4 separate regions of the Homo sapiens genome follow, and all the other regions are linked to region 2. Evidence: fine-mapped expression QTL. A gene starts in region 2. Each other region holds a variant in brackets. All regions are shown on one strand. Distances are from middle to middle.

Region 1 (2,684 bases), 54 kb before region 2:
TGCGCTCAGGCCACCTGGTGAATTTCTACACACAACTCCTGTCCCAGCCACAGTCGAACCTCTGATCTGAATCCTGAGTCTCAAATAATCTCTTGGGCTCTGATGAAAATTGTGATTTCCTGGAAGGACAGGAGCAAATGGCAAGTGGGTGGCTCAACCCTCTAGTCCAGTAATGAAGCAGAAATGACAGTGTCGCTGAGTTAAATCAGACCCAAGCTTGATCCTCAGAGCAGAACTTGAATGATGTAAGAAGGGTTCATTTCCTGAAGGAAAGAGAATAACCCCCGCCACCACCTCCCACACCCCCCATTTCAGGCAGATCTGTCAGTCTCATGGTTTCACCCCAACGACAGCACTCTTCATATTCTAGGAACTGGAGACTCACACTATTAGGGCACTTTGAAATCCTAATTCACTCGCTTGCTTTCGTTATGACCTCTTCACCCGTCCTCCAAAATATACACTTAAAAAGCCAGTCAATGAACATTAACCATTTTTTTTTGTAGAAATTTACTTATCACTTGAGATACCTAGAGACATTTTGGGCCATCACAAAGGAAGGTAAGGAGTATCCCCCTAGGAACCAATTTGCGTAACTAGTGAATAAAGGATCTATTTTCAACAAAATAATACCTTAAAGATGCAATTCAGAAACAGGGGTAACAGGCAAAGCTGGAAAAGATTGTGCCTGGGCTTCTGTTTCCTGTGACAGATGAAGGGAAAAAGCAATAGATGTTAATATCTTCGTTTAGCGAGGGGTAGAATGACATTGACTCCTCCCACTGTGAACGGGGTCTAGGCAGCTGCAGGGAGAAATGATCGAAGCAGGCAGGAGCAGCCTCTTGAAAATGGGGAGTTGCCTTGAGAGCCTGTCGACCAAAATGACTCCTCGGAGGGGACAGAAACAAAGGAATCCAGTGGAGGGACTTCCGTTGATGACTGTTCAAGTTGTCTCAATTGCTGTTCCATTTCCTGCAGGTTCCAAGGCGATGGTAATTGCTTGGTCCACAGTTCCCATCCAAGGTGGGCAGAAAGCAGAGTTTGGGAAGCTGTGAGTTCTTGTCAAAGCTGAAGGGCATGAGCTATGTTGGTGAGGTTATTAATGTCCTTGAAAAGGAGCCCAAGAGGCTGAATGAGGTTGTCTGAGGCTCAGAAAGTGGAGAGTGGGGCTGTGTCCACGGGGAGCAGATGCCCAACACTGTCAGGATGTCTCTTGTCCTCAGGGAACACCAAGCAGTCTCCCAGTCCCAGAAAGTGCTCAGGGGCTGCTCGCCATCAGTGTGGGAGAAGATGGAGGTTATGGAGTGCGGTGGGTAGAAAAGGGACTGTCTTCTCAGGCACTGGCTACCTTCCCTTCTGGAGGCAGCTGACAGGGGGACAAGCCTGAGATCTGACTGGGGGAGCTCTCAAGTCAGAAGAAAAAGAGGCTACGCAGTGACCACGGTAGGCCCAGACGGCTCAGGCGAGGGCATCTCCCCAACACGAAC[A/T]GAGCTCCGCGAATAAATAACATGAATTAAATAAAGGAGGCGAAGAAGAGCAGGCAGAGGCACCATCTGCCAGATTCTCACCCCTGCACACACGCACACGCACATGCACGCACACGCACACGCACCAAGCGGCAGATGAGATGAGCCAGGGTTGGCTGCCCCATCCCAGGAGTCTATTGGATGGGCAGCCTGACGTGATGGTTGTCACTCATGGTCCGCCACTGTTGCAGGGCGCAGAGAAGCAGAGGCCAGGGAGGCATGTGTGGTGGAAGGTGGAGGCCGCTGAGGACTCTGGCACCTGCAGGGGAGATGACGCAGGCGAAAGGGGAGGTTAGGGAAATACAGGAAACAGGAAAGTGGGTCCTCTCCTTTGCCCCATCCTGTTGCTGCAGGAATCCTTCTGACATCCCCAGTCACCCCTTGCCCTTCCTGCCCTTCGGGTACCAGCAAAACCCTCTTTAGCATCACCCAGCGCCTGCAGTTCCCCTGCCTCCTGGGTCCAGTGCTGCCTGGGACCATGGAGGTACTGACCAGGATCTGGACTTTCGGACTTTAGACGTGGAAGGTCTTTCCAGAAAGCTGTCCAATCGCATGAGCCTCTCCATGTGTAGCGCACGAGGGTCTTGTTCTTGGTCGTGAGAGAATTCCATCTCAAAGACAGCTGGAGGGGACACATCCAACTCCAGAAACATTATGTTTTCAGCCTGTGGTGGGAATATCATGCCAGGCTTGAACAGTGCCCAGTCACTGTGCCTTCTAGGGACTCAGCCAGTCTTGGGTGTAGCAGGGCTGATGAGGTGGTTAGGGGAAGCAGAGGCTGTGAGCATCCCCTCCCATAGGCTCTTTTTTTTTTTTCTTCTGAGATGGAGTCTCACTCTGTTGCCCAGGCTGGAGTGCAGTGGTGCAATCTCGGCTCACTGCAACCTCCACCTCCCAGGTTCAAGCAATTCTCCTGCCTCAGCCTCCCAAGTAGCTGGGACTATAGGCACCCATCACCACGCCTGGCTAATTTTTGTATTTTTAGTAGAGACAGGGGTTCACCATGTTAACCAGGCTGGTCTCGAACTCCTGACCTCAGGTGATCCACCTGCCTCGGCCTCCCACAGTGCTGGGATTACAGGTGTGAGACACCTCGCCCGGCCTCCCTCCCGTAGGCTCTTTCTCCCCTCTCCGCTTCTTACCCTGTACCTGGGGTGG
Region 2 (2,684 bases):
GGTGACGAAGGAGGAGAGGTCCTTGATGTAGACGCCAGTCTCGGGGTTCTCTTTCAGCTCTAGCCTCTTGCCCGGCTCCTTGGAGAGCAGGTCTCGAATCTCTTCCTGGTAGATCTCCAAATAGGAGGCCCGGACCAGGTACTGTTGGTTCTGGGAGCGGGAGATGTGGGTGAAGATGTGCTCAAAGGCATTCGGGATGACCCCGCGCAGCTCGGGCTCCACCCAGGTCCCCTGCATGGTATAGGTCTTGCCAGTGCCCGTCTGGCCATAGGCAAACACCGTGCCATTGAAACCCTGGAGCACGGAGTCTATCAGGGGCCTCACGGTTTCGTCATACAGGTCGGCCTGCTTGGAGCTGGCATCATACACGGCGTCAAAGGTGAAGGTCTTGGGCAGCTCCCCCGGGGCGGCGCGGGGGTTCCGCAGGGTCACCTGGCCCAGTTTCACGTCCATGGTCAGGATCTGCTCGTGACCAGCAGCCTCCTCCTTCCTGCTGAGGGGGCGGCACCGGGCCACCACCTTGAGGGCCTCGCTGGCCTTGGTCTTACTGGCCATCTTGCTGCTCTGACCTTCCTGCCCCCGAGCCCCTCCGCAGCCTGGGCGGTCCTGCTATCCTGCTCGCTAGGTCGGGATCAGCGGGGCCGGCCCAGCCCCCAGGCGCAGCTCTTCAATCCGCATGCAGCCTCCTAGGGTGGGGACGCTGGGAGGTGGCCCCAACGCTGCTGCAGTCCGGGCCTCCACCGCTCTCCGGTCCTCTCTGCACCGGCTGGGAGGTGAATTAGGCAGAATCCCCCAGTCGCCGCGGGAGCAGCGCCTGCCGAGCAGCCGTGCCCGGAGCCCGCCCCATGCAGGAGCAGAGGGAGCGCTGCCGTAAACAGCTTCGGCAACAATGAGATAAAGGAAGAGGAAAATGGGATGGGGGTGGGCGGCGAGCTGTCTTCTCCTCCTTCCTCTAGGGATCCATAGCGTGGGCTGCCGGTCGTGGGCGGCCGGGGGTCCCGGGCCTCCCGAGGGCAGAGGCTCACCTGGAGTCCTCCCCCCAAGCTGGGGGATCATTCATTGCAGCCAGCGCGGCTGCTGCTGCCTCTGCCTCCGCCTTCCCCGCCGCCGCCACTGGAGAATGAGAGAGAAAAACAGAAGGGGATGGGGCGGAGCAGCGGCAGCGAGAGTGATGTTGCCGCCGCGCTGCGGCCCCAGCTAAGCCTCCCGACTGGGGTGGGGCAGGGGGCGGGGCCGCGGGGCGGGAGGCGCGAGCCCGGAGCGGCCCGGGTGCGGGGGACAGGGGCGCATCGCCGTCTCTGCACCCCCGCCGACCGCTCCGGGATGACAGGCTCCGGTGCCGACCCAGGTCCTGCGCCCACCAGTCGGGTGCAGCGCAGCCACCGCCCGCCGTCACCCCACCGAGCCCGAGCATGCCGGGAATTGTAGTCCTGCCTTTGTTAACCGGGTTCTGGCAGGTTGCTAATGCCTTTCCCGGTCCCCCAGTCCGGGAGGCGCCTCCCTCATCCGCATGCCACCCCTTGAGTGACTGCTGAGCTTGCACCACCTATGCCTGGTCCCTCCGAGCCACCATCCTCGGACACCCCCCTGCTCCTGCCTTTCTGCCTGCAAATGGGTGCGCGTCACCCCTCCCCGTCAGGGTGTCGCCAGGCCTCCGGGAACCGAACTCCTAAATGTTCCTTGACTCTGTCCTTTCCTCCCCCTGTCCCGGTCTACTTCTGGCCTTCCTCTTCTCTCTGCTGGAGCCCACCTTCCAGCTGATTCTCTCGCACCTTATGTCCGCACAAGCACCCGGGAGCCCCCTCGCTCCTCCTCCACCGCCTTCCTTGTGTGAAAGCCTCTCCATCTTCCGCCTTCGCAGCCTCACCGCCACTACTCCTCTATAGAAAAATCTGTGTTCCAGACAGCCATTTCTTCAGTTATCCAGCGCCTGCTGAGCCCCAGGCCCCATTCTAGGATCTGGGTCCTTCCTGTCCTCAAGCAGTGCACATTCCCGGAACCGTGTTTTGTTTCTTTAACTGGCTTTGCTGTGCAGCATCTTTGTGCTTTTGCCCAGAGGCCTGGTCACCCTTCGGCACTTAGTGCCCTGCCACTTGGGCAGTTCAAGCACCTCCTCCTCCACGAAGCCTTCCCTTAGCAATTTTTTTTTTTCTATAGTGAAAGAGGCACAGAATTTACCTAAGACAAAACCTGGATTGAAGTTCCAGTTCTGATGGCCATCCAATGGAGTGGCTTTGAGCAGTCACTCCCCTTGCTCCAGCCTTAGTTTCCTCATTTATTTTTTTAAAAATTCGAGGCGGGAAAGAAATAATTAACAACTACTTCATGGAATGGTTGGGAGGCTCAAATGAAATAATGAATCATGAAGTACTGTACCATGAGAAGTCCTGCCCTGGCTTGGATTGCCTGACAGCTCCTGCTTCCTTGAGTATCCTGGATAGACCATGTCTGTGCTTGGTGTTCCTCTATGGGAGTCTTAATCTTTTTTTTTTTTCCTGTAGGATACAAATAAAGTGTAATTCCACAAGGCCAAGGACCAAGCCAGAGTCCTATCCATGGTCCACTCTGCAGAGGGCAGTTGAGTCTGTGGACTGAGCCCAAGCTGTCTGTCTTTACTCTCCATATGAGAACCAGATTGAGAGGTGCTGTTATCTGAAACCTGGAGACCCTTCTTCACAGAGGCA
Region 3 (2,684 bases), 160 kb after region 2:
TACTTGAAGGCTGCAAGCCAGCTTGAGAGCAGTGGCTGGAACTGGAAGGGGTGTGCACACTACCAATAGCAAGTGAGCAAGAGAGACCCACAATAAACTGAAGGTTATTACAGTACTACAGTAGGCTCTAAGAAAGTCCCTTCTCCCACTTTAAGAAACAGGGCTTTTTTTTTTTTTCTTTTTTACTTTTAAAGGAAACAATTCATTTGCTAGAAAAACCTAAAAAAAAAAAAGATTATATACAAAATGGTTGTCTGAATGTGGATTTTATACTGCAGCAAAAGCAACCCAGCTCTGGAACTCTATTCGGCTTCCTCAGTTATCAGGTACATCATGCTGCTGATGAAGGTGAAGGCGAAGGCCACCCACGCCAGGATGTAGGAGTAGCCATAGCTGCCTTCTTTGGTCAGGTAATAGAAATCCGTTGTTTCATCGCGCCTGTCTGTATAAATGGAGGCTGCAATCATGAGGCACAGATATGACATTGTAGCATGGTGTACTTTTTTTTTTTTTTTTTTTTTTTTTTTTTTTTTGAGACGAGTTTCGCTCTTGTTGCCCAGGCTGGAGTGCAGTGGCGCGATCTCGGCTCACTGCAACCTCCGCCTCTCGGGTTCAAGCGATTCTCCTGCCTCAGCCTCCCGAGTAGCTGGGACTACAGGTGTGTGCCACCACACCCGACTAATTTTGTATTTTTAGTAGAGATGGGGTTTCTCCATGTTGGTGAGGCTGGTCTCAAACTCCCGACCTCAGGTGAACCCCCCGCCTCAGCCTACCAAAGTGCTAGGATTACAAGGCGTGAGCTACCATGCCCGGCCGCGGAGTGGGGTACTCTTTTTTTTTTTTCTTTTTTTTGAGACGGAGTCTCGCTCTGTCGCCAGGCTGGAGTGCTGTGGCGCAATCTTGGCTCAATGCAACCTCCAAATCCCTGGTTCAAGCGATTCTCCTGCCTCAAGCCTCCTGAGTAGCTGGGATTACAGGCACGCACCACCACGCCCGGCTAATTTTTGTATTTTTAGTAGAGACGGAGTTTCATTATGTTGGCTAGGCTGGTCTCTATCTCCTGACCTCATAATCCGCATGCCTCGGCCTCCCAAAGTGCTGGGATTACAGGGGTGAGCCACCGCGCCCGGCCCATGGAGTACTCTTTAAAGCTGTCATTGATTACTGTACACTTCGTGTTTTTGGTACATATTCTCCAGACATCTGCAAAAAACTCATTTCCTACCCACCAGGCATTGTCGATGGTGGCGATGAACAGCAAGGCCGCAGAGGTGATGTGGAAGGCGACGGTGAAAGTAAGAAGCACCAACATTTTCATAGGGCAGGGCGAGGCGAGGGGTCACGTTTAAAGCCCAGAGCGGGATGTGCCGGCGCTGGCCGCTACGCAGGCTGCTGGACCGATGGACCGGCTGGGGTGCGAGGCAAGGCCGCCGGGCTGTTTTGAAGCTCTGGGCTGAGACTGTGCACCCTCCCTCCTCTGAAACCAGGGCTTCTTGAAATGGCAGATTCCAAGTTTGTGTCAGGAAAGGGGTAAAATGAGCCTGAAATAGCTGATTACATCAGATCTCAAACTCAAAATCTAGGGATGTTATCAAGATGGCTTGGGAGTTAACTTGAAGATGCTCACTCTGGCTAAAGATGGGACA[G/A]TCTGAACCTGTTGAATATGTGTAAATCCATGAGTTTATGATGATACCAAACACACATGCACACACCCCTAATTGGTCACTATTGGAGAATGCCAGGGAAATAGCTCTTCCCTCCCCCTACAACTCCTCTGGTGGTAAGTAAAAGAATCAATAATTAATCTTACCTTCCTTATATGAACTATACCACTGCGTAACTGAATAGTCAACAAGATGAAGTTTCTCTGTACAGAAGTATTCCAACAACAACCAAAAAGAAGAAGTAATAGAGTCTTATCTCACAACCTCTGATGAATTCATGGATCTAGGCAACGGTCGATGGCTACTAACATCACAAAAAGATCCAACAAAACAGACATTTATGTTCCTTCTGACCAAGAGCACCATGCTTATGAGGAGGCCATGCCTGATCAAAAGATCAGATCTGTAGTTTAGAGCCAACTGCTAATTTATAGGAAAAACGAGCACAGAACATGTTATACTAAATCAATCAACAAAATCCAGACCGTAAACTTTACAGGACAATTGCTTCAGCCTCTTCAAAATTCAATTTCAATAGGTAGAGAGAGAAAAGCAGGCAAAGCTGAACTATAGTGCGTTTAGGAAAGTACAGCATAATATACTAATGTAAATTAAGAAAATCATTATCCTAGAAGTCAGGATAGGGATATTATTATTATTACTATTTTGAGACAGAGTCTCGCCCTGTCACCCAGGCTGGAGTGCAATGGCATGATCTCGGCTCACTGCAACTTCTGCCTCCCAGTTTCAAGTGATTCTCATGCCTCAGCCTCCCCAGTAGCTGGGATTACAGGCACCCACCACCACGCCTGGCTAATTTTTATATTTTTAGCAGCGATGACATTTCACCATGTTGCCCGGACTGGTCTCGAACTCCTGACCTCAGGTAATCGGCCTCCCACTCAGCCTCCCAAAGTGCTGGGATTACAGGCGGGAGCCACTGTGCCCGGCCAGGATAGGGATATTCTTAGCAGAGGGTTCCTAGGATAGCAAAATCTTTTCACATGGATATTGGTTGCA
Region 4 (2,684 bases), 130 kb after region 2:
CAGAAAGATTGCTTGAGCCCAAGAATTCAAGGCTGCAGTGAGCTATTATCATACCACTGTGCTTCAGCCTGGGTGACAGAGTGAGACTCTGTCTCTGAAAAAGAAAAGAAGTTATTTAAAAAGAAAATCTTGGCCAGGCGCAGTGGCTCATGCCTGTAATCCCAGCACTTTGGGAGGCTGAGGCAGGCGGATCACCTGAGGTCAGGAGTTTGAAACCAGTCTGGTCGACATGGTGAAACCCTGTCTCTATGAAAAACACAAAAAATTAGCCGGGCATGATGGTGGGCACCTGTAGTCTCAGCTACTCAGGAGGCCAAGGCAGGAGAATCACTTGAACCCAGGAGGCGGAGGAGGTTGCAGTGAGCCAAGATTGCACCACTGCACTCCATCCTGGGCAGCAGAGTGCAACTCCGTCTCAAAAAGAAAGAAAGAGGAAATCTTGTTTCTCTGGTGTATTAAAGGATTATATAACATGATCAAGAGGAACTTACCCAGGAATGCAAGGGTCAGAACCTGTCAATGTAATACACCATATTAATAGACGACAAAACCATACAGTTATCTCAGTTCACACAGAAAAAACATTTGACAAAATCCAACATTCTTTTATGATTAAAACAGTCAGCCAAACGCAGTGGCTCACACCCGTAAATCCCAGCACTTTGGGAGGCCGAGGCAAGTGGATCACCTGAGGTCAGGAGTTCGAGACCAGCCTGGCCAACATGGTGAAACCTCGTCTCTACTAAAAATACAAAAATCAGCCAGGTGTGATGGCAAACACCTGTAACCCCAGCTACTCGGGAGGCTGAGGCAGGAGAATCGCTTGAGCCCAGGAGGTGGAGGTTGCAGTAAGCCAAGATCGTGCCATTGTGCTCCAGCCTGGGCGACAGAGCAAGACTCTGTCTCAAAAAAAAGTCAACAAACTAGGAATAGCAAAGAACTTCCTTAATCCTGTAAGTGACATCTATAAAAATACCACAGCTATTATTGTACCTGTCCCCTAAGATCAAGAGCATGGCAAGAATATCTACTCTGGCCACTTCTGTTCAACATTATGCTGAGTTCCAGCCAGAGCTAAAAAAAAAAAAAAAAAGAAAGAAAGAAAAAAAGCCATCCAGAGTGAAACAACTATTTATAAATGGTAGAATATTTTATATAGAAAATCCTTAAGAACCCACAAACATATACCCAGAAAACTCTTAGAACTAATAAACAAGTTCAGCAAGGTTACAAGAAATGAGATCAACATATAAAAATCAGCTTTATTTCTGTACACTAGCAATAACCTAAAAATTACATTGAGAATAAATTTCCATTTGTAATAATATCAAAAGGCAAAAAATACTTAGGAGTAAATTTAACCAAAAGAGTGTAAGACTTGAACACAGAAAACCACAAAATATTGTTGAAAGAAATTAAAGATCTAAATAATTAGATAGCCATTATTTGTGAATTGGAAGACAATATTAAGATGGCATTACTACCCAAAGTGATCTACAGATTTAGTGCAATCCCTATCAAAATCCCAATTGCTTTTTTAAAAATTCCCCCCCGTAGAAATTGACAAATTGACCCTAAAACTAATATAGAAAGGCAAGGGACCCAGAGTAGCCAAAA[T/A]AATCTTGAAAAGGAAGTACACAGTTGTAAGATTTATACTTTCTGGTTTTAAAACTTAACCGCAAAGCCACAATAATCAAAACACTGTGATACTGACATAAGGATAGTCATAAAGATTGATTGAATAGTATTGAGAGTCTAAAAATAAACTCTTACATATATGGTCAGTTGACTTTTAACAAGATGGCTAGACAATTCAATGGGCAAAAGAATAGTCTTTCCAACAAATGGTGCTGGGAAAACTGGCTATCCTTGTGTGGAAGAATGAAAGTTAGACACCTACTTCATACCATACAGAAAAGTTAACTCAAAATGGACCACAAAGGTTGGGTATGGTGACCCACACCTGTAATCCCAACATTTTGGGAGGCCAAGGTGGGTGGGTCGCTGGAGCCCAGGAGTTTGAGACCAGCCTGGGCAACATGGTGAAACCCCATCTCTACAAAAATATACAAAAAAAAAAAAAAAAAATTAGTCGGGTATGGTGGTATGCACTTGTAGTTCCAGCTATCTGGGAGGCTGAGGTGGGATCACTTGAGCCCAGGAGGTCGAGGCTGCAGTGAACCATGATTGCATTACTACACTCCAGCCTGGGCAACAGAGTGAGACTCTGTCTCAAAAAAAGAAAAAAAACCAAAAAGGATCATGGACCTACATGTAAGATCTAAAGCCATGAAGTGGCAAAAGAAAAGAAATGGATAAATTGGGCTACATCAAATTTAAAACCTTTGTGCTTTGAAGGTTCTACCATTTAGAAAGTAAAAAGCCAACCCACAGAATGGAAGAAAAGAGGACAGACTCTAACAAGCGTTCACAAAGATGGAGAGAAATTGTAACCCTCATATATTGCTGGTAGAATTGTAGAAAGATGCAGCTGGTTTGGAAGATATTTTGGCAGTTCTCAAAATGGTTAAACATACAGTTACCTTATGACCAGCAGTTCTACTCTTAGGTATTTACCCAAGAGAATTAACAATATATATCCACAAAAGGTGTACACAAGTATTTATAGCAGCATTGTTCACAATAGCCAAAAAAAAAAACCAGAAACAACCCAAACATCCATC

What was found. PIP is the estimated chance that this variant, and not a neighbour inherited with it, causes the effect.
Region 1: its variant is fine-mapped to the expression of KIF3C in whole blood (TOPMed, PIP above 0.99).
Region 3: its variant is fine-mapped to the expression of KIF3C in whole blood (TOPMed, PIP 0.98).
Region 4: its variant is fine-mapped to the expression of KIF3C in whole blood (TOPMed, PIP 0.96).

The regions. Positions count from the first base shown.
Region 1 is chr2:25,927,287-25,929,970 of GRCh38, forward strand. It overlaps KIF3C (kinesin family member 3C), which reads right to left. Exons shown (of 8, transcript NM_002254.8): 6 at 2,669-2,684; 7 at 2,019-2,191; 8 at 1-1,785. The coding sequence ends at 1,692. Among named protein-coding and RNA genes, the nearest start is that of ASXL2, 50 kb to the left of the region's middle. The variant A/T (reference allele first, on the strand shown) is at 1,488.
Region 2 is chr2:25,981,363-25,984,046 of GRCh38, forward strand. KIF3C (kinesin family member 3C) reads right to left here and starts at 1,135. Exons shown (of 8, transcript NM_002254.8): 1 at 1-1,135. The coding sequence starts at 555. RefSeq lists enhancers at 1-414, 415-924 and silencers at 914-1,073, 1,214-1,383.
Region 3 is chr2:26,139,953-26,142,636 of GRCh38, forward strand. It overlaps the pseudogene EMP2P1. Among named protein-coding and RNA genes, the nearest start is that of GAREM2, 32 kb to the right of the region's middle. The variant G/A (reference allele first, on the strand shown) is at 1,647.
Region 4 is chr2:26,112,668-26,115,351 of GRCh38, forward strand. The region is part of intron 3 of RAB10 (RAB10, member RAS oncogene family); the gene reads left to right. Among named protein-coding and RNA genes, the nearest start is that of GAREM2, 59 kb to the right of the region's middle. The variant T/A (reference allele first, on the strand shown) is at 1,618.